Homo sapiens: one gene and its partners. The protein of the gene in region 2 interacts with the protein of the main gene of each other region in a pairwise test. Each region holds a gene or a part of one and is shown on either strand. Other genes may lie near its edges.

Region 1 (2,717 bases), on a different chromosome or scaffold from region 2:
GACGGGATCTCCCTCTGCCGCCCAGACTGGAGTGCAGTGGTGTATCTTGGCTCACTGCAACCTCTGCCAGCCAGGCTCAAACGATTCTCCTGCCTCAGCCTCCCGAGTAGCTGGGACTACAGGCGCGACCCACCACATCCGGCTAATTTTTTTGTATTTTTAGTGGAGACAGGGTTTTACCATGTCTGCCAGGCTGCTCTCGAACTCCTGACCTCAGGTAATCCGCCCACCTCAGCCTCCCAAAGTGCTGGGATTACAGGTGTGAGCCACTGAGCCCTGCCACTTGTTTCTCTTTTACATTTCCACTTAATATCTAAACCCATCTGATGCAAAAAACAAAACAACAAAAAACAACAAAAAACTGATGTGAAGAAATTGTAAATCTATATCATTTCCTCTGCCCTACACATAAAAAGTCTAAAATTGATGAAGAGGTAAATGCAACATTTTCATCAGTTAATCATTCTCTAGACTTAATAAAAACATTTCTGGCAATCAGAAAAGGGGAAAAATCTTTAATTGATTTCTCAGGTAATTTTTTTCCAGATTGTACATAAAGTGTTCTTATGTTCTCTATTTGGATGTTTCAGGAGACATACAAATGAAATACAGTACATAGACAAATGAAATGCTAATAAGAAGTAGGATGATATTAAAATATCCTTACTTTGCCTGTATGGAACAAAGGCAGTCTACTCCATCGGGGAATCAAAGCAAATGTGAATAAGAGGTTTCCACCTTGCAAAACTGTGAGCTTCATTTGCCCTGGAGAGAACTACTAGGCAAGGCTTCACATGACAGTACCTGTAGGGATGTCCATGGGGCTGTGAAGCAGGTGTATTGTATCGAACATGCAGCTGCAATGAAGGCGTGGAGCTCAGGAGAAGCAGCCACTGACAATGCCCCTCCTGGCCGCAGGGTCTTCTGTGCAGCCTCCCATGGATCAATATACCAGTTAGTTAAAACACACATCAGTATTTTCTGTCCTTTAGCAACGATGATGATATTTGCCACCAGCGAGTGTGATCTGTGAGGCGATTTTAAAATGCAGTCCTGGGATTCTACTGTATTGAAACACCTTTGATTTTCTATTTGAATACTTCCAAGCTTTGTAATTATGCCACCATGTGCTCGTGATCGTAAGAAATTAATTTTAAACTAAATATTCTTCAGTATCCCTTTTCATATATATTTTCACCTCATATACATAGTTTGGGATAAAATAGTGTAAAGAGTATAGGAAAATGCAACAAATTAAAGGGTAGGACATTAAATAAAACACCAATTTACCTTGTTCTTCAAAGTTTTTAAGGTTCAAAAATTTATTGGTATTTTAAGCCAGTGGTCCCCAACCTTTCTGGTACCAGGGACCGGTTTCATGGAAGACAATTTTTTCACGGACTCGGGGTAGCGGGATGGGGGTGGGGGATGGTTTCGGCACGAAGCTATTCAACCTCAGATCATGAGGCATTAGATTCATCAGGCATTAGATTCTCATAAGGAGTGCACAACCTAGATCCCTCGCATGTGCAGTTCACAACAGGGTTCGCACTCCCATGAGACTCTAATGCTGCTGCTGACCTGACGGGAGGCAGAGCTCAGGCAGTAATGCAAGCTCTGGGGAGCAGCTGTAAATACAGATGAAGCTGTGCTCACTCACCCACCGCTCACCCCCTGCTGTGTGGCCTGGTTCCTAACCAGTGCCACGGACTGGTACTGGTCTGTGGCCTGGGGGTGGGGACCCCTGTTTTAAGCAGTTTAAGAATTATTCTTTTTCAGAATATCTACCTCTACTGGGATAAGATCACGTTTCTTTACTGTGAGCACACAGTAGGTGCTCAATAAATGCTTGTTGCAAGAATGAATGACCGGCCGGGCGCGGTGGCTCAAGCCTGTAATCCCAGCACTTTGGGAGGCTGAGGCGGGCAGATCACGAGGTCAGGAGATCGAGACCATCCTGGCCAACATGGTGAAACCCTGTCTCTACTAAAAATACAAAAAAAATTGGCTGGGCGTGGTGGCACACACCTGTAGTCCCAGCTACTCAGGAGGCTGAGGCAGGAGAATCGATTGAACCCAGGAGGCGGAGGTTGCAGTGAGCCGAGATTGTGCCAACGCACTCCAGCCTGGCGACAGAGTGAGACTCTGTCTCAAAAAAAAAAAAAAAAAAAGAATGACAATATGTTCCTATTTTTTACCATAATAGGTAAAATCTATAAGTAGTGTTATTTTTGCCTGCGACATTTATGTAACAAAACAAAGTTCAGTTTTAGAATTGATTTAAAGTAATACTATAAGAATGGAACATTTAAAGGTTGAAACATAAAGGATTAAACAAAAGTCTAAGGTCTCCCCATGAGTTTCTAAATATAGCATGCTTAACCAGGAAAATGAACACGAATATTTGTAAATAAATTTCAGATGAAAGGAAATTTTCAATATAAGCTGTGTAAGTTTAAATTAACATAAAGAAAACACAATTGTTTGTAAAAACAATTATACACATTGAGAGAAATGATAACTCTCTCTAAATTTGCATTCTCAATATTGTCTGTGCAAAATTGCTTGTAGTGTCCTCAAATGGATGTCTGTGGCCAGGCGCACAGAGAACATCCCCTTAAATGGTACATATTGAGGCAAGGCGGCCAGCTGTCTCCTTTAACTAGATGGAGTCTGGCCAGGTCACGGCTGTGCTTTCAAACAACTGGTCTGGATAT
Region 2 (3,487 bases):
GTATAGCAAAAGATGAAGGACATTATATATTTATTTTCTTGACAGCCACACTCAGAGAATAATTTCATGCTTTAAAAAAAAAGTCCATGCAAACGTATCCTAGGCCAAAGGAGACTTGCTTGACGTCTGTCAGCCATCCAGGTCCCTATGTAAGATTGCAGCCACTTGAGCTTATCACTTTGTAAAGGACACTAAGGGGTTGGGAGCCTCCAAGCTAGTTAAAAGAAACTTCCTTCTGGTTTATAAAAACAGTTCTGCTTTAGAAAAATCCATAAAGCTGAGTCTGAAACATCACTCAGTGGCTACTGCTCTTAGTCATTTAAAGCAGAAGAGCTTTTGTGACAGGTAACATAGTCTTCAACTCTAGTCGGAGTAGCATAAATGGCCCATGTGTATACACCTATGGCTTAACCCTGAAGCCAGTTCACTGGCATGCTTACCAGCCAGTCTACAGATGCCCACGTGCTGGTCCTTATTACACTTTAGATTGGAGGCTGTCTCCCTGCCTAAGGAAAAAACTAGAGGGAATATTCAAGCAATTACTCAAGTTATTCAACCAAACTAACTACTGTAATTACAAATTTGTAAAACAGGTAAAAATCTCCCAAGCATAATTTAAATTATGCAGAAAAATCCTTCACGTAGATGCAGATTGAGTTACAATTAGACACCTGGGTTTTTCTGGGTGCAATATCATTATTGCTATCATAATTAAAACTGCCTGTGAATAACAACAATGAAAAGCAGATTACAGAACGTTTTTGGTGAGACCTAAGAATGTTCCCATGAATAATACTGATGTTGAAAAGAGAGAAAGAATATAAATGAGAACCTACCTGGGGTTTCTTCATTTCTTCTTTGCAATTCAGTTTCAACCTGATCCAAGACTTTCTCCAACTCATCAAGAATTTTCTTCAAATACTTGACATTGTCATGATCAAGCAGCTTTGACTAATTAACCACCAAAAAAAGAAACCAAACATATTATTTGCACCTTTAAAAAAAATAAATCTAGGTAAAGCAGATACAAACTCTTACAGAGTTCAGCCTATTTTAGACAACGAGAAGAAATAGAAAAACTCAGCAAAAAAAAAAAAAAAAAAAAGAGAGAGAGAGAGCTAAGTTGAAGGGAAATATCCCAGCTGTGAAAATGACCCAGGAGCAGACCCACCACTCACTGGCAGCTCCTATGAGGCCAGATGACCACAGAAGGCAAAGAATGGGAGGGACACGAAGAGCCATCTGCCAAGCCCAACTCAGGAAAAGAATTCTAGCAGCCGTAATTGAAAGAGTAGCTGAAGGGTCAGGGATGAGTAAGAAGTCCGAGTGAAGGAGTTAAACGGCGAGTGGAGAGTCAGTCAAGTGACTGTGAGTGCAGGTGTTTCTTCTGAGGAGCTCGTTTAGCTACGATAGGATAAAGGAAGGTGGGAAGTTGGGGAGGGTTGGGAGTGCTGCTGTTTTCTACACTTTTAATATGAGAGAAGCTTGCAATAGTTGCTGGGCCCGGGGAAGGAATCAACAGAAGGAGAAAGGCTGACCATAAAGCACACTCCTCAGGGGGCAAAGCAAGTCAGGGCGACACATGGAGGGATGTAGGTCTAGCGAGGACTTCCAGTGGTGGAATACCTGAAATGACAGATTCTAGAATATGTTATGAACTTCCTTTGCATTTCATAACTTTTTTGGCAACCAGCATGCTCAATATCTGCTTGTTAAGCACTTGTCATCAAGTTTCAATATCAAGTCTAATAAAAAATTCTTTCTAAAAGGAGAACATAAGCCAAAGGTAACATGTGTACTGGTGAACTGCAATATTTAAAAGAAGATATTCTAGAAATAGTGGTACTTTACAAAAAGTAGAACATTTACTCCGTGCAGTGTATGTCAACTGAGGACAGCTGATTGGCTTACTTTAAGTCGTTTCTGTTTTGCAATGTATGCTTCTTGTAAATCTGGGTTTTCTTCAGCAAGTTTCTTCAGCTCAGACTCTGTGTTTCCAATTTGGCCTGATAATAAAAACATTTTGGAAACAGAAAATTATTTTCTCCCTTCTACACCAGTAACAAGGAGAAGCAGAGAAACTCAATGACAAGAGCATGAGCTCTGGGGCTCATGCCCTGCTTCTCTGCCTTGGGCTTACCCTGTCTATGCCTCAGTTTCCTCACCTTTCAAATGGAACCATAAGAGTATCTGCCGGCTGGGCGCGGTGGCTCACACCTGTAATCCCAGCACTTTGGGAGGCCGAGGCGGGAGGATCAGGAGGTCAAGAGATCGAGACCATCTTGGCCAACGTGGTGAAACCCCGTCTCTACTAAAAATACAAAAATTGTCTGGGCGTGGTGGCGCATGCCTGTCATCCCAGCTACTCGGGAGGCTGAGGCAGGAGAATCACTTGAACTCAGGAAGCAGAGGTTGCAGTGAGCCGAGATGATGCCACTGCACGCCAGCATGGAAACAGAGCGAGACTCCATCCAAAAAAAAAAAGAAAAGAAAAAAACAAAGAATATCTGCCATGAAGACTAAATGAGAAGCTTCATGGGAAGCACTTAGAGCAAGGCCCAGCACTTTACAGTGCTCAGTGCAGGCTTGCTGCTCCGCCTTCCTCTACCTTTCAAGCTTTCTATAATGAACTCCTATATGAAGGGAGGAAAAAGCCTTATTTTTAAAAAATATTAACTATAGGTCATAGAATTATAGTCAAAACTCTTGTTTCAAATACTATAAAGGGTATTTATGAAGAGGAGGAGGAATAAGAGGAAAGAGAAGCAGGAAGAGAGGGCAGTGGAGAAAAAGGAAGAGAAGGGAGAAAAGGGAAGAGATGAAAAGGGAAGGGAGAGGAGAGGAAAAGGAGGGGTATCAAAAAGGAAAAAAAGAATAATAAGAATAATAAAGGTGAGTATCACATAATGGGGAACACATGGTTTCTGGATTTAGAAGATCTGAGTTTGAGTGTTTCTGATCAACATTCCCAAAGTGTGACCACTGCCACAATCCTTTCCCTTCTTATCTCCAATTATCTCTGCTATAAAGCACACCTCCTGCTCCACAGATCATGCACTGACTATTCTCATGACAGGAGGAAGGCAGAAAGCTGGATGTCACAACTCAATCCCAATAAATCTACTATCACTGAACATAGAGACAGAGTAATAGTTAGACACCCTCTAGTCCAGTTTCCTCAAATAACGAAAACAACAATTAAGGACCAGTAACATGAACTCAACTGCCCATAATCCTAGGCAGATCCCAGGTTTTCAGATTCCTAGTCCATCTGTTCATGAGAACATGTTATATTCTTTACTCTTCCATAATCCACTCTTCTGAGTTTTACCCAAGATTGGCCCTCAAAGCCAAGAGCTGATAAATCAGGTCCTATAGACAATAAATGTCCAATTGAGCAAGTGAAGCACAGATTAATCCGACTGGTTCATGGATCGATCCATAACATGCACATCCATGAAGCAAACTCAACAACCCTATTCCCAAT
Region 3 (3,500 bases), on a different chromosome or scaffold from region 2:
ACAGATTAAAGATGATTATTGGTATTATTTACAGTACCAAAACAAAATAAATATTTTAACAAAATTAAACCAATCCCAACCAATTATTCCGACCATTTGCTAAGTTCCCCTAAATTAAATTTATACTCTCCACATGTGGAAAATTAATGATCTCATCATTTAAAATGGACTCCTTTAACATAAATTTCTCTTAATGACTGTAGGAGACCGTTATTTTAGATGTCTCAAGACCACTTTACTGAAACACTACCTTAAAAAAAGAGTCTCATTACAATGGAAACAAAAAGCTATTACGAATTAAATACTGTGATGGTTAATACTGAGTGTCAACTTGATTGAAGGATGAAAAGTATTGTTCCCAGGTGTGTCTGTGAGGGTGTTGCTAGAGGAGATTAACATTTGAGTCAGTGGACTAGGACACGCAGACCCACCCTCAATCTGGGTCGGCACCATTTAATCTGCATCAGCACGGCCAGAATAAAAACAGGCAGAAGAAAATGTGAAAAGACTAAACTGGCTTAAGTCTCCCAGCCTACATCTTTCTCCCATGCTGGATGCTTCCTGCCCTTGAACATCAGACTCCAAGTTCTTAGCTTTGGGACTTCTGGACCTTTGACCATAGACTAAAAGCTGCACTGTTGGCTTCCCTACTTTTGAGGTTTTGGGACTCGGAATGGCTTCCTTGCTCCTCAGCTTGCAGATGGCCTACTGTGGGACTTCACTTTGTGATCATGTGAGTCGATACACCTTAATAAACTCCCCTTTATATATACATCTGTCCTATCAGTTGTGTCCTTTTAGAGAACCCTGACCAACACAAATAACTCCTTTTCTCTGCCATGTTTCATAAAATGTGTCTCTAGTAATATTAACATCAGTGAAGAAAATATAAAACCATATAATTACAATTTTAATGCCTTAATTTTCTCTGAAAATCTTAGATGTTACTAGTTTTTCAAATAAAATAAGTGTTACAAATTGCTTTAGAAAATTTTTGTCTCTTAACCTGTTATTTTCTTTTCCTTATTCAAATCTATTTGTAACCACTGGTATTCATCAGTGGCAAAAGCAGCCCAAGGCGGTCCAGGTTTTTTCAGCCTGGCTTTTTTGGGTTTCCAACTGTTCTCTTGCCCTGTGTGGTCAGTCCACTCCAGCACAGATGATGCTGTTATTTGAGGATCCGCGATCACACCAGACTCCATCCCCAGTGTTCCATAACATCCTGAAACAAAGAAAAGACTAAATTTGGTTTCCAGGTATAATTTCAAAATGCATGTAGACCTGCTCACTGAAAACTTTCTATTCCATCTTTAATTAACATACACTACACTAATAATACACTGTAACAGAGAAATTTCAAAACTAGGCAAGTGTTTCTTGGGCATATGTCTTTGTGTATCATTAGGAAACCTACAAACATGCTCATTTATAAGCATGACTGTTAGTTTAATGGAGATACATTATCTTCTCCCTGGGACACTCTTCCCAAATAACTGAGTAACTCACTCCTTTACCTCCTTCAGGTTTTTGGCCTATGTTGCATTCTCCCTGAGGTCTTCCCTGGGAGGAAGGCCCTTCCCAACTTCAATCCAGTCCTCCTTATTTTCCTACATCTTTTATCATATTGTAAACAGTACATTATAAACAGAAATTTATTCATTGCTTATCATCAATCTCTCACTACTAGAATGTAAGCTCCAGGAAGGCAGGAGTTTGTTCACTTTACTCTATCACTCGAACCAGAGCAATGCCTGGCACATAAAGAGAAGGCACTCAGTAAGTATTTTCTGTTGAACGAATTGATTACTTCTTCAGACAAGTTCAAAAGTCATCTTTCTTAAGGAACCTTCCTTGCTTACATGACCATTTCTCTATAAATATAAAACTTTCAATTTGCTCTATTCATTATATTATTAGATAACTATCTTACCTCATAGTGTTATTAAGACAACTACGTGAGAAAGTACAATAAATCAGCAACTGACACAGTGCCTAACAGTGTTCAAAAAATATTATATAAATAAAAAATTATAAAGTCCATAAAAGGCTTACCACTTGTCTTAAATGTAAAAAGACTTGTAGATAAGTGTCCCCTGAAAGAGAGAAGGGTTTTTTTTGGTGATACTCACATAACACATGATGCCCCATATTTAGTGAAACATTTTCTTTTGATTTGGTTCCCCCCACCCAATAAAAGAACCAAGAAGACTGTGTGGCTAAAAATTAGACAACTAATATTGTTCCTAGGAAAAAAGTCTCATTTCTAAGCAGGACAACTTCTGAAATCAGCATAAACAGCTTTCTCTACAAGTATCTAGCACCCAGTTTCATATGTGATTGTGCAAAAGTTCTCTATGTAATCTTTAATATGTACTTCTTTTTCATATGTATTTACTCATTGTTTACTGTCAATCTCTCACTACTTTATTTCATGAAATAAATGGATTCTTAACACTTTTCTGTGGCAAATGCTTTCGATGAAAATACACTAAAAGGTCTAATTCTCAGAGAATGAGGCTCAAGTTTTTTCGGATAAACATGAGAAAAGTTGGGTACTAATAGATTTCTTTTTCTTTTTTTTTTTTTTTTTAGGAGAAATCAACATCTCATGGAAGAAGTTTCAGTGTACACTCCTGCCTTTAGTCCAACATACAAACCATTACAAGAGGATGCAATTTATCCCTGTTTTCTTTTTTAAAGTATGAAAGAGAGAATTCACAAACACTAAATCTTTCTAAAGGTATAACATGGTAAAGGAATGAAAGGGTCTGCATAAAATAATCTAGAAAAAAAAAAAAAAAAAGAAGGGAAGGTAGTTGAATCTATACCAGGGATGGGCAAATGACTGCCCATGCATGGCCTGTTTTGTATGGGCCGTGAGTTAAGAATAAAGAGCTATAAATAAAACAAAAAAAGAATAAGCTGCAGCGACATGTGGCCTGTAAAGCCTAAAATATTTATTAGCTGGATCTTTACAGAACAAATCTGCTGAATCCTGTTGTATACCAATCTGGATATGGATGATGCTTGTGTCTTCTGAATGAAAATTGGCCTAGGACCTCTGAAGAAAAGCTGGTTTCAATTAGGCTTAGTGTTGTCTGAAAGACTGAGCAGATCTAAGAGACAAGATTTATAAAAACAGATTGCTAACACTGCATTTCTATTTAATGTTTCAATTTCTCTTGCTTTTGATGCCTACCCTACGTTTTATAAAACAGTAGAACACTATAGTTACCATGAAAATACATCTTCAAAATATTCTCTTAGAATGAAAGGAAGATTCACAATAATGCTTATGATGTAACACTTTATGTCAAACTTAAATTTATATTTAAAGTATTTCAATTATCTTGAATCCCCATGTGCTATAAGGAACACAGTAGTTAAGCCTTTCAATCTGTAAAATAAATAAGGATTTGGCAACAAACTTCTAGACTCTTATGTAGACTTTTTTTTAACACTTAGAAAAGACAGAAGAAACACATTACTCTTCCAAATGA
Region 4 (3,500 bases), on a different chromosome or scaffold from region 2:
CTCATCTGTAAAATAATCACAGCAGGTTTCTTTACACATTGAGCAAAAAATAAACCAGAAACACTTCAACTGCAACAACCATGAAATAGAGTTGATACTAAAGTTTCTGTTAAATAACAGAACAAAAAATGGATTGCTTTATGTTAGAATAAAAACATTTAAAAATAAATTGGATGCCCTCCTTCCAGGAAGCAGTGAGGAAGACAGTCTAGACACCTTACAGCCTAGTTCTTCCATGGGCTTACTCCACCAGGACTAGTGCTTTACACCCTACGGGCACACAATATATGCTGAATGAATGGCAGGATTCGAGAATGAATGGCTATGTACTCCCTAGTCCCTGGACATTGGTATGGTAATTCTGATGCAGTTTTACATTAAATTTACATTGTACACAAAGAATGGTAGCTTTACTTCCATTTTTATCAGTGAAAAATTTAAGGAACTTAACAAATTACCCATTGTGATCTCCATTGTGGGGATAGGGTGGTATCCTCCTAATTCAGCTTTTGTCAGGATACAATTTTAAGACGCCACGAAATAACCTATTTTCTTATATAGAAACCCAGATTTACTCTCCCTCTCCACCTTCTAAACAGTGGGGATCACCAGTCTGCCACAGGATCCCCTCTGGGTAGGGAACAGTAGAGGGAACATGTTCTAAGGCCACTGATCACAGAATGGTTCTGAACACTAAGATGACTTCTGTCTGTATTTAAGGAATGACCTCTGAGCCCTGTCTCCAAGAAGGCCATGAGCATACAGGGTACCATAACAGACATTGACTATAGGGTTATCCCATGCCAAACTCTCAGTGAAATCCATTTTGAGCCCTCTCAGCCTTCTACGTCTTATCCCAACCCTGCGGGGCTTTTTTTGCATAACTGCATTGAGTATGCAGGTAGAAAGAAATCTATCATTCATTTCACCACAGCTGGTAATTATAGACTCCAGGTCTGTAGACTGTAGGTCAAGTCAAGCTGAAATAAACTTTGCACAGGGTATTTTTTTTTTTTTCCTAAAGCCAATCTTTAACATATATGCCTTTCATTTACATCAGGCAAAAAAACAAAAATTAGAAAACAGTAGTATTAAGGATAGAATTTAGTTTCCAACCTTAATACACTTTCCTCCATCTAAATAGTCACCCAAAACCTCATAGTTATTATCCATTGATCTAATAGTTGAATAACTTTTGGGGGGAATAAAAAAGATGGATTCATGGTCAGGAACCTATAAGAGTTTTCCCAGAGTTACTTTTTTAGCAAGGCTCTCAGAAGAAGGTAACAATTGGCAGCTTGTGCTTGTTAGGAGCCAAGCTTCCACTTGGGCTGCAGGGAGACTCACAATAGCATGAGGCCCCCAGCTTGTCTCAATTCCCTCAAGACTTATGCATTCTTTTTTCTCTCCCTCAATCTGCTTAGAGGATGTTTCTTCTTTTCTTACCTGTGTGCCCTAGGCCAGATTAGGAAACTATTTCCTTTGAAGTTTTCTGTACAAAGCCTTATCTGCAAAGTTTTTCCAAACTAAGTAAGATAAAGGAAATGGTTCAATGTAGGGATAACTATACCTGGCCCTCACCAGCCCATGACTCTCAGTGGTTACCTGTTCTCTCTTCTTGGAATTTAGAGCTTAGTTGCCTGTGGGGTGGCAGGACTGGGTAACTTCTCTACCCTGAAAACAGAATTGAGGAGAGAAAGTGAAGGAACAGTGTGGCCTTAACCTACCTGAAGCTCTCAATCAGAGTTCCACAAACCCTAGTGTGTTTTCTCTCTGAGACAAGCCCTGGGGCCTACCACACCTGGGTTTGCACACTGGCTGTTAGGTGAAGGTTGGGCAAGTCAGCTGATCTCTTTAAGCTTCCATTTTTTCTACTTTAAAGTGGGGATGATAAAAATGAGACCGTTGTAAAAATTAAATAAATTAAACCTCAAAGGAATTAGTGTGCTATTGGCATAGAGCACATACTCCATCAGTGATCTCTTTCCAACTTGTTTTCTTGGTTCTTAATTTTAAGCCAGAAGATTCTTTTTCAAATGGCTCTAGGGAGTCAGGATCAGACTTCCAAAGTGGAACCTGACCAGGGCCCCTCCATTTAATGCAAATTTCATTTGGTCTGGGAGATCAGACAGGTATAGAGTTATATCTGATGTTGAGAATATACCTTCCTCACTAGCTTTGGAGAAAGGGCTACAAAGATGAAAAGTGAAGACACCCCAAAATGGACTCATGGTAATTAAATAAGGCACACACAGCCCACCACATCATGGAAGAAAAAAACCTACAGATACATGGCAAGACAAAAAACAAAAAACAATATTTCCATACCTTTCCTCTAATCCCAAGGAAACCTAAAGAACTTGATTAAAAAGCCGTGGCCAAGAGTTCGAAGTGAAAGTCAGCCCTTTAGCTATTATTTATTGCTTTATTAGAGCAGAGGGAAGTGACACTCATTGCCTTCACAGAGCTCTGCAGAAATATATGCACAGAGTGGTCAATGACCAACATCTGAGTAAGTCTTCCAAATTATCACATTAAAATAACCTTTCAAATTTGAGTGCCTCTCCTTTGCAAACAACTGCAACCTCATAATGAATAATTTTATATATTATCAAAAAGAACCAGAAGCCCAGGTGCTTTTTTCCCCAAAATCCACTTACTAAGGACTTGAGTGAAAATCCACTCTAAGCAGATCACTGTTACTATTTCCCTTTCAAAACAGTTGGAAATCCTAAGGTACGGGTACTAAGAAGATAGCAATATCCTTCTTAAGCTGGTAAGAATCTAGCCCCACAGGGACAATTTGGCAATCCTGTTTCTGGAAGCCAGGACTCCAGAGATTTGTCTTAGTGATGGACAGATACTCCTCTAACCTTAAGGCATGAGGGCTGTCAAAACAAGGCTCTGAATAGTGCCTTCCTGCTCATCAATGTCATCACAATGAAGGAGAGAACAGGTTTTCGTTTTCCTGAAGAGTGGTCAGTAGGAGTGCAGTGGTTTGGCATAGATCGGCTCCAGAACATAATGGATTAAAACCAAGAAGAGGCCTCCAAGGAAGATGGCACTAAGGAAAGCCAGCAGGACATAGCGGCCAATGAAAAAGTCATCCACAATCTGGAGAAAGAAAACATCAAAATGAAATTACTACCAGTTAGACACCCTGGCTGGGTTAACCTGAACTCCATGATGAGTGGGCCAAGAGTTAGTTCATGTGTATAACTTCCAGTAACATCCTGCCCTGAGTCTCCTCTGTACATGAGAAAAAAGAATCTTTTCCTCAACTCCCTGAGCAGGAGACACAAGAAGGGATTAATGAGGGACAGGGAACAAATGGCTCAATTTAGGATGTTGGTAAACACTTTGAAGTCCCTGGATGAATTCTTTTATATTCTGAAATCTGTTACCTGAAAGAGTTAATGAGAAGCTTTTGCATGGTCCTAGAAAGGCTCATTTTTGTTGTTGCTAAAATACATTTTATTACGGAGAATTTTAAACATACA
Region 5 (3,500 bases), on a different chromosome or scaffold from region 2:
TTAGGCTCACTGCAACCTCCGCCTCTTGGGTTCAAGTGATTCTTCTGCCTCATCCTACCTCAGCCTCCTGAATAGCTGGAACTACAGGCCTGCACCACCATGCCCAGCTAATTTTTTTGTATTTTTAGTAGAGATGGTGTTTCGCCATGTTGCCCAGGCTGGTCTCAAACTCCTGAGCTCAAGTGATCCTCCTGCCTTGGCCTCCCAAAGTGCTGGGATTATAGGCATGAGCCACCCTGCCCGGCCAGCTATTGAGTTTTTGTATTTTTGGAGGGGCGGGAGGGCTCTTGAGTTTTTTGTGTTTTGTTTGTTTGTTTATTTGTTTCGTTTTGTTTTGAGACGGAGTCTTGCTCTGTCACCCAGGCTGGAGTGCAGTGGCGCGATCTCCGCTCACTGCAAGCTCTGCCTCCCGGGTTCATGCCATTCTGCTTCAGCCTCCCGAGTAGCTGGGACTACAGGTGCCTGCCACCATGCCCGGCTAATTTTTTGTATTTTTAGTAGAGACTGCGTTTCACCATGTTAGCCAGGATGGTCTCGATCTCCTGACCACGTGATCCGTCTGCCTCGGCCTCCCAGAGTGCTGGGATTACAGGCGTGAGCCACCGTGCCTGGCCAGTTCTTGAGTTTTAACTAGGTCTGCTTTGTGTATTTTTCTGGCTAAGTGTCCCTGTGAGTGTCCATCCCTTCCCCCATCTCCATGTACGGTAATCCCAGCTCATATTTGTGGCCAGGCACCAGCTTTGGCTGCCTTTGTGCCCTCCCAGGCCAGCTTCCTCAACAACCAGCACCTCTGACCTGGATGCCTCAGCTTAGACACATAAACACATTCCATTCCCTGTCCCTGCCTTGTAACAAGTTCACTCCCTGCCTTATCCCTCACAGGAATCCTCAACAGATGCCACTGTAAGTGGGGAGAGAAGCTGCTCAGGTGAGTGGGTCCCACACATACTACACACTAATGCATGAATTCCATATGCACACTACATACTAAAGCCTACTAATGGCAGTATACAGATTCTCACATACACCACCCCACCTAGTAGTAGTAAAGCAACTGCCCTTTACTGAGCACTGGCTAACTGCATTTCATCCTTATAACAGCTTTGTGTAGTAGCTGATATGCATCTCATTTTTTGTTGTCAGCGCAGGTACACATATACCCATTGATGATACACAGACTTGCACACATACAAGCAGCAGGAAAAAACACAAAATGTAAGGCCGGGCACAGTGGCTCACACCTGTAATCCCAGCACTTTGGGGGGCCAAGGTGGGTGAATCACTTGAGGTCAGGAGTTTGAGACCAGCTGGCCAACATGGTAAAGCCCCATCTCTACTAAAATGCAAAAATTAGCCAAGCGTGTTGGTAGGTGCCTGTAATTCCAGCTACTCAGGAGACTAAGGCAGGAGAATCGCTTGAACCCAGGAGGTGGAGGTTGCAGTGAGCCAAGATTGTGCACTGCACTTCAGCCTGGGCAACAGAGTGAGACTCCGTCTCAAAAAAAAAAAAAAATGCTAATGTAACACATGGCTATGTTAGCATGGTTATCTTTAGTTATAGAAAACACACTTCACATTTCTGTGATGACTCTCAAATTTGTGTCTCTAGTTTTGAACTCCGTATGTGAATGTTAATTGCATATCACCACCTGCAGTTTTCACAGGCAGCTCAAACTCAGAGCATCCAAACTGATGCCCACCAGATCTGTTCCTCTTCCTGCATTCCCTTTGCTGGTTAATGGCATTGCTGGCAGTACACCTTCTCAAGCCATGAACCTTGGATTGATGCTAGAAACAAAAAACCTGTCATTCCAAAACAGAGATCTAAGCATGTCACTCCTTTTTTTTTTTTTTTTTTTTTGTGACTGAGTTTCGCTCTTGTTGCCCAGGCTGGAGTACAATGGCACGATCTCTGCTCACTGCAACCTCCACTTCCCGGGTTCAAGCAATTCTTCTGCCTCAGCCTCCCAAGTAGCTGGGATTACAGGCGCCCACCACCACACCTGGCTAATTTTTGTATTTTCAGTAGAGGCGGGGTTTCACCATGTTGGTCAGGCTGGTCTCGAACTCCTGGTGATCCGCCCACCTCGGCCTCCCAAAGTGCTGGGATTACAGGCATGAGTCACTGCGCCTGGCCGTCACTCCACTTTTTAAATAGCCTAAGTAGAAAGAAAATAACATAAACCTTAGGAGGTTTTCCCATTACCTTCAGGATTAAGATTAGCATCTTAAGCAGTATAATGATGTTCAGGGTCCATCACGTTTACCCCAGTTTTAATTTCCAGACTCACCTTCCAAAGCCCCTTCTAAGTCCTTTCCTACTGGATCTACCTTATATTCTAGTCATTTAGGGCCACTTGCCATTATGGAAACATGTCATGCCTGTGTTTATGCTGCTCCTTCTGGAAAGTCTTTTTTTTTTTTTTTTTGAGACGGAGTCTCCCTCTGTCACCCAGGCTGGAGTGCAGTGGCGCGGTCTTTGCTCACTGCAACCTCCACCTCCCAGGTTCAAGCAATTCTCCTGCCTCAGCCTCCGGAGTAGCTGGGATTACAGGGACCCACCACCATGCCTGGCTAATTTTTGTATTTTTAGTAGAGATGGGATTTCACCATGTTGGCCACGCTGGTCTTGAACTGCTGACCTCGTGATCTGCCCACCTCGGCCTCCCAAAGTGCTGGGATTACAGGCATAAGCCACTGTGCCCGGCCTGGAAAGTCTTTTCCTTGTTCTGTACCTATCAAAATCTTACATCCAGGTCAGGCGCGGTGGCTCACGCCTGTAGTCTCAGCATTTTGGGAGGCTGAGGTGGGTGGATGATTTGAGGTCAGGAGTTCAAGACCAGCCTGGCCAACTTGGTGAAACTTCACGTCTACCGAAAATACAAAAATTAGCCCAGCATCATGGCGCATGCCTCTAGTACCAGCTACTCAGGAGGCTGAGGCAGGAGAATTGCTTGAACTCGGGAGGTAGAGGTTGAAGTGAGCCCAGATTGCCCCACTGCACTCCAGCCTGGGCAACAGAGTGAGATTCTGTCTTAAAAAAAAAAAAAAGTGCATCCTCTTCAAGGTGCAATCCAACTGTTACCCTTTGGCTTTTACAGGTACCTGTAAGGAGTTGATGTGCACCTTCTTTGTGCTCACATAGTGCTTGTTTATGTTTTTCTAGTTGCACTGTCACATCATGTTAGAATTAGCAGTCAGTGAATCTGCTTGCCTCCATAGCTATGAACTCTATCTAGTAGCTATACCTGTTACCTCAGTGTCTGACACATGGTCTTGTACATAGTAGCACTCAATGTGTGAACACAACGCAAATGTAAACGCACTGGTGACATCATCTCTAAACAGAGTGGAAACCTTTGCTAGCCTCAGGTGCACAATCCTTCCCCTACCTCACCTCCCGCTGCAATATGTATCTTGTAGGAGTTAATTTAGGATAATCTCTGAGGTCATCTCCAGGTAATCAGCATCTCCAGGAATCGGCAGGGTAATTTAATTAC
Region 6 (3,500 bases), on a different chromosome or scaffold from region 2:
AGGGGAACACAAATATTCAAACCATAGTACCAGATGTTTTATTAAATGAGGAAAGTAACTCCCTGCTTCACAGTCATATTTTCTATTACATACTTACCACAGCATCCCTAACTGCCTTCTTATAACATAGATCGTGGGTGTCCTTGTAATCACTTTTAGTTTTTTTCAATTCCAAACAAAATATCATAATTCCTAATCAAGGTAACACAATTATTTCAACATGTGTACAATAAATCCTGTCCATAATTTACAAAGGCACAATATATTATTTGTTCTGAATATATAATAGCAAATAAAGTTTCAGCAGTATTGTATAACAGCTAATATTATATGAGACACTGGCAGGAGAGATCAGCATGTGTGTTGTTAATTTGACTTTCCAGGTTTATATTTTCCTTTTGTAAGAATTCAGGAAGTTAAATTACATACTTTAAATTCAGGCATATGAAACTAAATAGTACTTAATGTTAAATTACAAAGATAATATCAATGACCAATTTTAAGAGTGTCTACAAATTTTTATTTTGTTTCATACCAATTTAAAAATAAATACATATTTTATTGATACTAATACATATTATTAGTTTAATAAATATTCTAGTTTTACATATTGGTTCACAAAAGAATTATATAAACTTCTTAAAAATAAAATCTATACTATAGCTTTTATTGAACTGCAAGAGATGAATTTTAATATTTAACTATACATGTAAAATCCGTAAAAACAATACAATAATTTAAAAATTATAGTTCCAACTTCCTGTTTTTTGAAATTATTCTGATGTTTCTTCTACACTCAAGTCCCAACCTTCTCTACTTCTAGAAGTTGAATAAGAAAGACATGGAAGATACAGCAGGCAGGCAACACAGGTTCTAGGGGAAACCTGATCAAGCCCTTAGCTTCTCTAGTTCTGTTGATTTCTCTACAGGGTAGGGATCACTACAGTCCCATTTAATTAAAAGAAACTGGATTTAAAACACCTGATTCTAAGGACGGTGGTACACTCTTGAGAAAAGAGTTAAAGCTTTTATTTGTATGAAAGGCAATTACTCAGCCCTAAAAGCTCAACAGACAATTAAGGGCTTAAATTATACAATGTTTTCCCATCTTCTCCAGATACAACCTCAATTACATAGTTTTTTAGCTTGAGATATTAATTGAATTCAGCATGATTGTTGATAAAATGCCCTTTGGTTAGAAAAGGAGGAGGAGAGAGAAGGGAGGGGAAGGAAAAAAATTCTATTAACTAGGAGATGTTGTACAGATAGAAATCTACAATTTCAAATATATCCAACCTGAATGAACACTGAAATAAAAAGATTTTTAAGATTTACAAGCTCCCTAGTACTTTAGCAATTTATCTTATAGATTAGTTAACTACAGAATACTAGATTCTCATTATTTTTTTTTGAGTACTGTTTTAAACTTTAAGGGTTAACTAAGAGTTATCAACACAAACTAATATTTCATGCAAAAGTATCACTTTTATAATAATCTTTTTCTTGTATGAAACTAATTTCCTTAAAAAATAGCTACTATATACTGAAAACAGTATTATGCCAAATATTTCCCACATACACAAGTTTCTAATACGTACTACCTACAAGCTACAGAATAGTCAACCATTTAACAAGAAGGCAGATTATATTCTTTCATTTCACCAACTGCCATATCAAAAGTTACTTATCTTTGAAGGAAAATATTTGCTGGCAATAATTTTATCTCATTGACAACTGATTTATATCTAAAGTTTAGATGTCCTATTTATCAAGCAATGAAGGCTCTAGAGACTAACAAAGATTTCCATTTAAGATATTATTCCGTATTATTGTCTATTTCATCTTACTACAAGACAAATTAATAAATATGCTATAGGACTGTGCTATTCAATACAGTATCCACTGGCCTCATGTGGCTAATGAGCACTTAAAATGTGGCTTGCCCAAATTTGTAAAATGCATACCAGATTTCAAAAAATTAGTACAAGAAATAGTACAAACTATCAGAATAAATCTTTACATCAATTACATGTTAAAATGATAACATTTTGGATGTATTGAGTTAAATAAAATATTAAAATTAACTTCAGCTGTTTATTTTTATTTTTTAATGTGGCTTCTAGAATTTTTTAATTACATATATCACTTACATTATTGTTCTATCCTACAGCATTGCTATAGAAGCAGCGGACTCAATTATTTATGTTAATATCCATCCCAACCCACATCATTAAGCTTTTTTATCATTATAGTATGAGATAACATATTTAATACATGATCACAAGATTCCTGAGCTTAGAATCATGAACACCTCCACTCTTAAAAATGAAACCAAACATAACCTGCTGTAATTATCCTGGCAACAGTGATAAACTTTAGATTTGTGTTAGGTATGAGTCTGCAAAAAAGACAAAAGGAATCTTTTGGAATGATGGAAACGTTCTAAATCCAGATTGTGCTGATGGCTGCATAGTTCTACATATGTATTAAAACATCACTGAATTAGATACTTAAAAGTGGGTAAATTACATAATATGTAAATTATATATCAATAAAGCTGTTTTTGTTTTTTTAAAGTACACAGCTAGAGCCCAGCAGATCTAAGGGGCCATCTAGAAGCTGCACATACATTTTAGGTGATTCAAACATAATTTTTAAATTCATCATTCTCACAGTGAAAATGTTTCCATGAGGGTAATTTTACCTAGAGTGGGTCCATGTTTAACGGTGAATTATGTAATTACTTATTGGAGGTATATGTTGATAAGGACAAAGAGAGCACTAGAGTAGAGATAGTGGGCAGTTTATTTGCTTTTAGGGACATCCAGTTCAGGAAATAATAGCCCTTATAGTAATGTGTACTATCTTGTCACAAATCCCTTACTCAAGTTAGGCACCTTTGGAATTTCACCATCCTAGATAGAACAGTAGAATATGAGACTTCCTACTCTACGCTAATAAAAACAAATAAAAAATAGATGAAGTCAAAACTAACATTTACCAATTTCCATGAGAAACTGAAACTAAACTACTGAGTTTTCTTTCACTATTGCAGAACAAAAAAAAAGAAGAAACCTAGTAATTCAAAAGTACATTCAATTTAGAAAAGGATCCTGGTAATTAATAAATCATTAAGAATATAGAATCCTTTGTGCATTCCTTCTGTCAGATCTTGATCAATCTAGATACTATGAGATAATTCACCATGAACATTGTGCTGCTGCCACCTTTTGTTTTTTGAAATCTATCATCACCAGTGGCAAAAAATAAATAAAAACAAAAGCAAAAAACAGCTCCACTGTTCCACTTTGTCAAAATGGGTATGAAGAACTTTGATTTATTCTTTCTTTACACTCAAGAAAACACAATAAAGTAAAACACAGATCAAACTACCATGCACTTGAAACACTATGTACCTTTCTGCATTTCATGTCTTGTTTAGCATGTATTTCAGGGCTCACTTTACCCATATTAACAACAACAAAACAGTAGACACAGGA
Region 7 (3,500 bases), on a different chromosome or scaffold from region 2:
TCTTCTCAATTTCGTACCATCTTCCGAGATACTGCAGAGACAACAAGCAGAGCAAAACCCTGTGGTTCTCTGGGGACCTGCAACTTCTTCCCCATTGTCGTGCAGACGCAGAGCCCTGTCCTGGGGAAGCCAGACAAAATGGGCCTCATTGTTCCCAGTGGCAACTGGGCAAGAGATTGATTGCAATGAGAATCTGTGACTAGGATGGGATGTGCGGGCAGGGGGTGAATGCTGAGTAAAGGGCTCTTCTCAGGGCCCACTTCAGCCAAAATCGCTGTGACATTCTAGACTCTGTAAAAAAAGGGGATGATGGGAAATACCTTTCATCTGAAACAGTGCACAATTCTACAAGTCATCTTTGAATCCTGTGCAAAGTCAGATGTGTTCGCTGTGGGGAGCTAGGACTCCAGAGCGCACGGAACTTTCCTCATCTGACCCTGAGGAGGGATTTAGTCATCAAGGCTTTGGAGAGGTGGTGGGGATTTGAAAGGTCTGTATCATGCTTTCTCTAGGGGCCTGCGCTCAGTCCAGACTTCAGGTGTATACAGTTAGCTTTAAAGGAAGCTGCCACTGTGTGGGGAAGGTCGAGGGAACCAGGCCCTCCTAGGCTGCCTGGCACGCGTTGCAGGGAGACCATACCAGTTTACAACCTCTGCGGAGGGCAGTTTGGCAATATCTAGCAAAGCTAAAAATACATATTATACTCTTTGGCCCAGCAATTTCACTTCTGGGAATGCATCCTCCTGATATAAGAAATGATGTATGTGTAAAGTTATTCATTACAGTACCGTTTGTAATAATACAAGATAGGAAACAGCCTATGTGAGCATTAGTAGGGGGCTGGGTGAGTAAACGATGGCATATCCAGACAATGGAATTTTACTTCCTCTTTCAAAAGAGTGGTATGCAGTGATTTCTAATATTTAATGACAAAAGAGTCAGGTACAAAATAGTGTATCTATTAAGGCACCTTTTGTGTAAAAATGGAGAAAATGTTTATTACGTTGGTTTTCTGTTGCTGCTATAATAAATTAGCACAAGCTTCAAACAGCACAGATTTATTATCTTGCAGTTGTGTAAGTCAGAAGTCTGACAGGTCTCACTGGGCTGAACTCAAAGTGTTGGCTGTGTTTCCCTCTGGGAGCTCTAGGGGAGGATCAGTTTCCTTGCCTTTTCCAAGTTCTACAGGCCGCCTACATTCCTTGGCTTGAGGCTTCCTCTATTTTCAAAGCCAGCAAAAGGAAGTCAGATCCTTCTCACATTGCATCTCTCTGACTCTTATGCCATCATCAAACCTCTCTCTCTTATCACAGCTGGGAAAGATTCTCTGCTTTTAAGGATTTATGTGATTAGATTGAGTTCCCCTGGATAATCAAGGCTAATCTGGCCATCTCAAGGCTCATAACTTCGATCACATTTGCAAAAGCCCTTTTCCCATGCAAAGTAACATTCACAAGGTTAGGGCGTGGACACCTTTGGAAGCCACTCTTCTGCTTACCACAGTTATTAAGTATTTGCTTGTATATGTATATATTATCTGTAAAATTACATAATACATGGTTTTTACTAGTTGCTACTGGGGAGGGAAACTGAGGTACAGAGGTGGGAGGGAAACTTTATGTGGTGTATTCTTTTACACCTTTAGGATTTTGAACAATGTAAATATATTTATCTAGTTAAAATACTAATTAGAATTTTGTTTTTTTGAGATGGAGTCTCACTATGTCACCAGAGTGGAGTGCAGTAGTGCAATCTGGGCTCACTGCAACCTCTGCCTCCCGGGTGCAAGTGATTCTCCTGCTTCAGCCTCCCGAGTAGCTGGGATTACAGGCACGTGCCACCATGCCCGGCTAATTTTTGTATTTTTACTGGAGAAGGGGTTTCACCATGTTGGCCAGGATGGTCTCAATCTCCTGACCTAGTGATCCCCCTGCCTCGGCCTCCCAAAGTGCTGGGATTACAGGCGTGAGCCACCGCGCCTGGCCTATTCTAGAAATTTAAAAACAAAAAGAGATGCGCTCACCTTCAGAGTCAGAACTTGAAAAGAGAGGATGCTGCACACAGGTGAGTATTGCTTCAGCCACGGCTTTCCGCTCAAATGTATGCCACATTCATGACCATAAAGTTCTACTCACTTATTAAAGCACAGCTTTCAATTAAAGCCACTGAACTTAACATTCATTTAAAGTACCAAAGAATAAGGTTAGAGGTTAACTGGTTTCATAGACATTCTCGGAAGAAGCTCCATTTTCTATGGTGCATTCAAATCTGTTCTATTTCTGTTAAAGTGAGTTTAGTGCCCCATAGTAAAAACCAAGGAAGCATGATTTTTCAGAAAAGAGGAAACTCAGAGCTTCCTTATGATCTCATATTATTTTTGCAAAGGCTTCTTAATCTTTTCAGATCTCTGGTCAGTATTGAAAAATAATCCTAGAAAAGAAGAGGTAAAACTCTATCTGTTTGCAGATGACATATAAAATATCCTAAGAAATCTAAAACAGAGACAAAACCAAAAACTATTGGATCTAATGAGTTAAGCAAGGTTACAAGATACAAGATTAATATTCAAAAATCAAATATATTTCTCAGCCAGACGCAGTGGCTCATGCCTGTAATCCCAGGACTTTGGGAGGCCGAGGCGGGTGGATCACTTGAGGTCAGGAGTTCAAGACCAGCATAGCCAACATGGCGAGGCCCCATCTCTATAAAAAATTTAAAAATTAGCCGGGCATGGTGGCACGCAACTGTAATACCAGCTACTCGGGAGGCTGAGGCAGGATAATCTCTTGAACCTGGGAGGCAGAGGTTGCAGTGAGCTGAGATGGTGCCACTACACTCCAGCCTGGGTGACAGAGCAAGACTCTGTCACACACACACAAAAATATATACATATATAAACATATTTCTCTACTTGCAATGAACAATTTGCAGATGAAATTAAGAAAATTCCATTTAAAAGGCCGGGCACGGTGGCTTGCTCACACCTGTAATCCTAGCACTATGGGAGGCCGAGGCGGATGGATTGCCTGAGCTCAGGAGTTCGAGACCAGCCTGGGCAACATGGTGAAACCCCGTCTTTACTAAAATACAAAAAAACTTTGCTGGGTGTGGTGGCGTGTACCTGTAGTCCCAGCTACTTGGGAGGCTGAGGCAGGAGAATTGCTTGAACCCGGGAGGCGGAGGTTGCAGTGAGCCAAGATGGTGATGCTGCACTCCACCCTGGGTGACAAAGTGAGACTCCGTCTCAAAAAAAAAAAGAAAAGAAAAGAAAAAGAAGAAAATTCCATTTACAATAACATCAAAAGAATAAAATATTTGGGAATAAATTTAACCAAAGAAACATAAAACTTATACTCTGAAAACTACAAAGTATTGTTGAAAGAAATTAAAGATGACCTAATTCAATGGAAAGATACACTATGTTGACAAGTTAGAAGACTTAATATTGTTAAGATGGCAGTACTCCCCAAATTGATCTTCAGATTTAATGCAATCTGTAT

Evidence for each region.
Region 1: the proteins of GDAP1 (region 2) and FAM114A1 interact in binary tests that used the Homo sapiens proteins (3 or more experiments, as listed by UniProt).
Region 3: the proteins of GDAP1 (region 2) and DCBLD2 interact in binary tests that used the Homo sapiens proteins (3 or more experiments, as listed by UniProt).
Region 4: the proteins of GDAP1 (region 2) and TMEM218 interact in binary tests that used the Homo sapiens proteins (3 or more experiments, as listed by UniProt).
Region 5: the proteins of GDAP1 (region 2) and MSH5 interact in binary tests that used the Homo sapiens proteins (3 or more experiments, as listed by UniProt).
Region 6: the proteins of GDAP1 (region 2) and STARD4 interact in binary tests that used the Homo sapiens proteins (3 or more experiments, as listed by UniProt).
Region 7: the proteins of GDAP1 (region 2) and APOD interact in binary tests that used the Homo sapiens proteins (3 or more experiments, as listed by UniProt).

Annotation. Positions count from the first base shown.
Region 1 is NC_000004.12:38,943,523-38,946,239, reverse strand, and holds the end of FAM114A1 (protein NOXP20), read right to left. Parts: coding exon 2,683-2,717; 3' UTR 501-2,682; downstream 1-500. UniProt on the Homo sapiens protein: May play a role in neuronal cell development.
Region 2 is NC_000008.11:74,360,403-74,363,889, reverse strand, and holds part of GDAP1 (ganglioside-induced differentiation-associated protein 1), read right to left. Parts: intron 2,007-3,487; coding exon 1,912-2,006; intron 1,627-1,911; coding exon of another isoform or gene 1,516-1,626; exon of another isoform or gene 1,071-1,515; intron 952-1,070; coding exon 837-951; intron 1-836. UniProt on the Homo sapiens protein: Regulates the mitochondrial network by promoting mitochondrial fission.
Region 3 is NC_000003.12:98,818,196-98,821,695, forward strand, and holds part of DCBLD2 (discoidin, CUB and LCCL domain-containing protein 2 precursor), read right to left. Parts: intron 2,094-3,500; coding exon 2,053-2,093; intron 1,223-2,052; coding exon 1,007-1,222; intron 1-1,006.
Region 4 is NC_000011.10:125,094,627-125,098,126, forward strand, and holds part of TMEM218 (transmembrane protein 218), read right to left. Parts: intron 3,115-3,500; coding exon 2,980-3,114; 3' UTR 1-2,979. UniProt on the Homo sapiens protein: May be involved in ciliary biogenesis or function.
Region 5 is NC_000006.12:31,746,505-31,750,004, forward strand, and holds part of MSH5 (mutS protein homolog 5), read left to right. Parts: intron 1-882; coding exon 883-928; intron 929-3,500.
Region 6 is NC_000005.10:111,495,536-111,499,035, forward strand, and holds the end of STARD4 (stAR-related lipid transfer protein 4), read right to left. Parts: 3' UTR 498-3,500; downstream 1-497. UniProt on the Homo sapiens protein: Involved in the intracellular transport of cholesterol. Binds cholesterol or other sterols.
Region 7 is NC_000003.12:195,573,941-195,577,440, forward strand, and holds part of APOD (apolipoprotein D precursor), read right to left. Parts: intron 32-3,500; coding exon 1-31. UniProt on the Homo sapiens protein: APOD occurs in the macromolecular complex with lecithin-cholesterol acyltransferase. It is probably involved in the transport and binding of bilin. Appears to be able to transport a variety of ligands in a number of different contexts.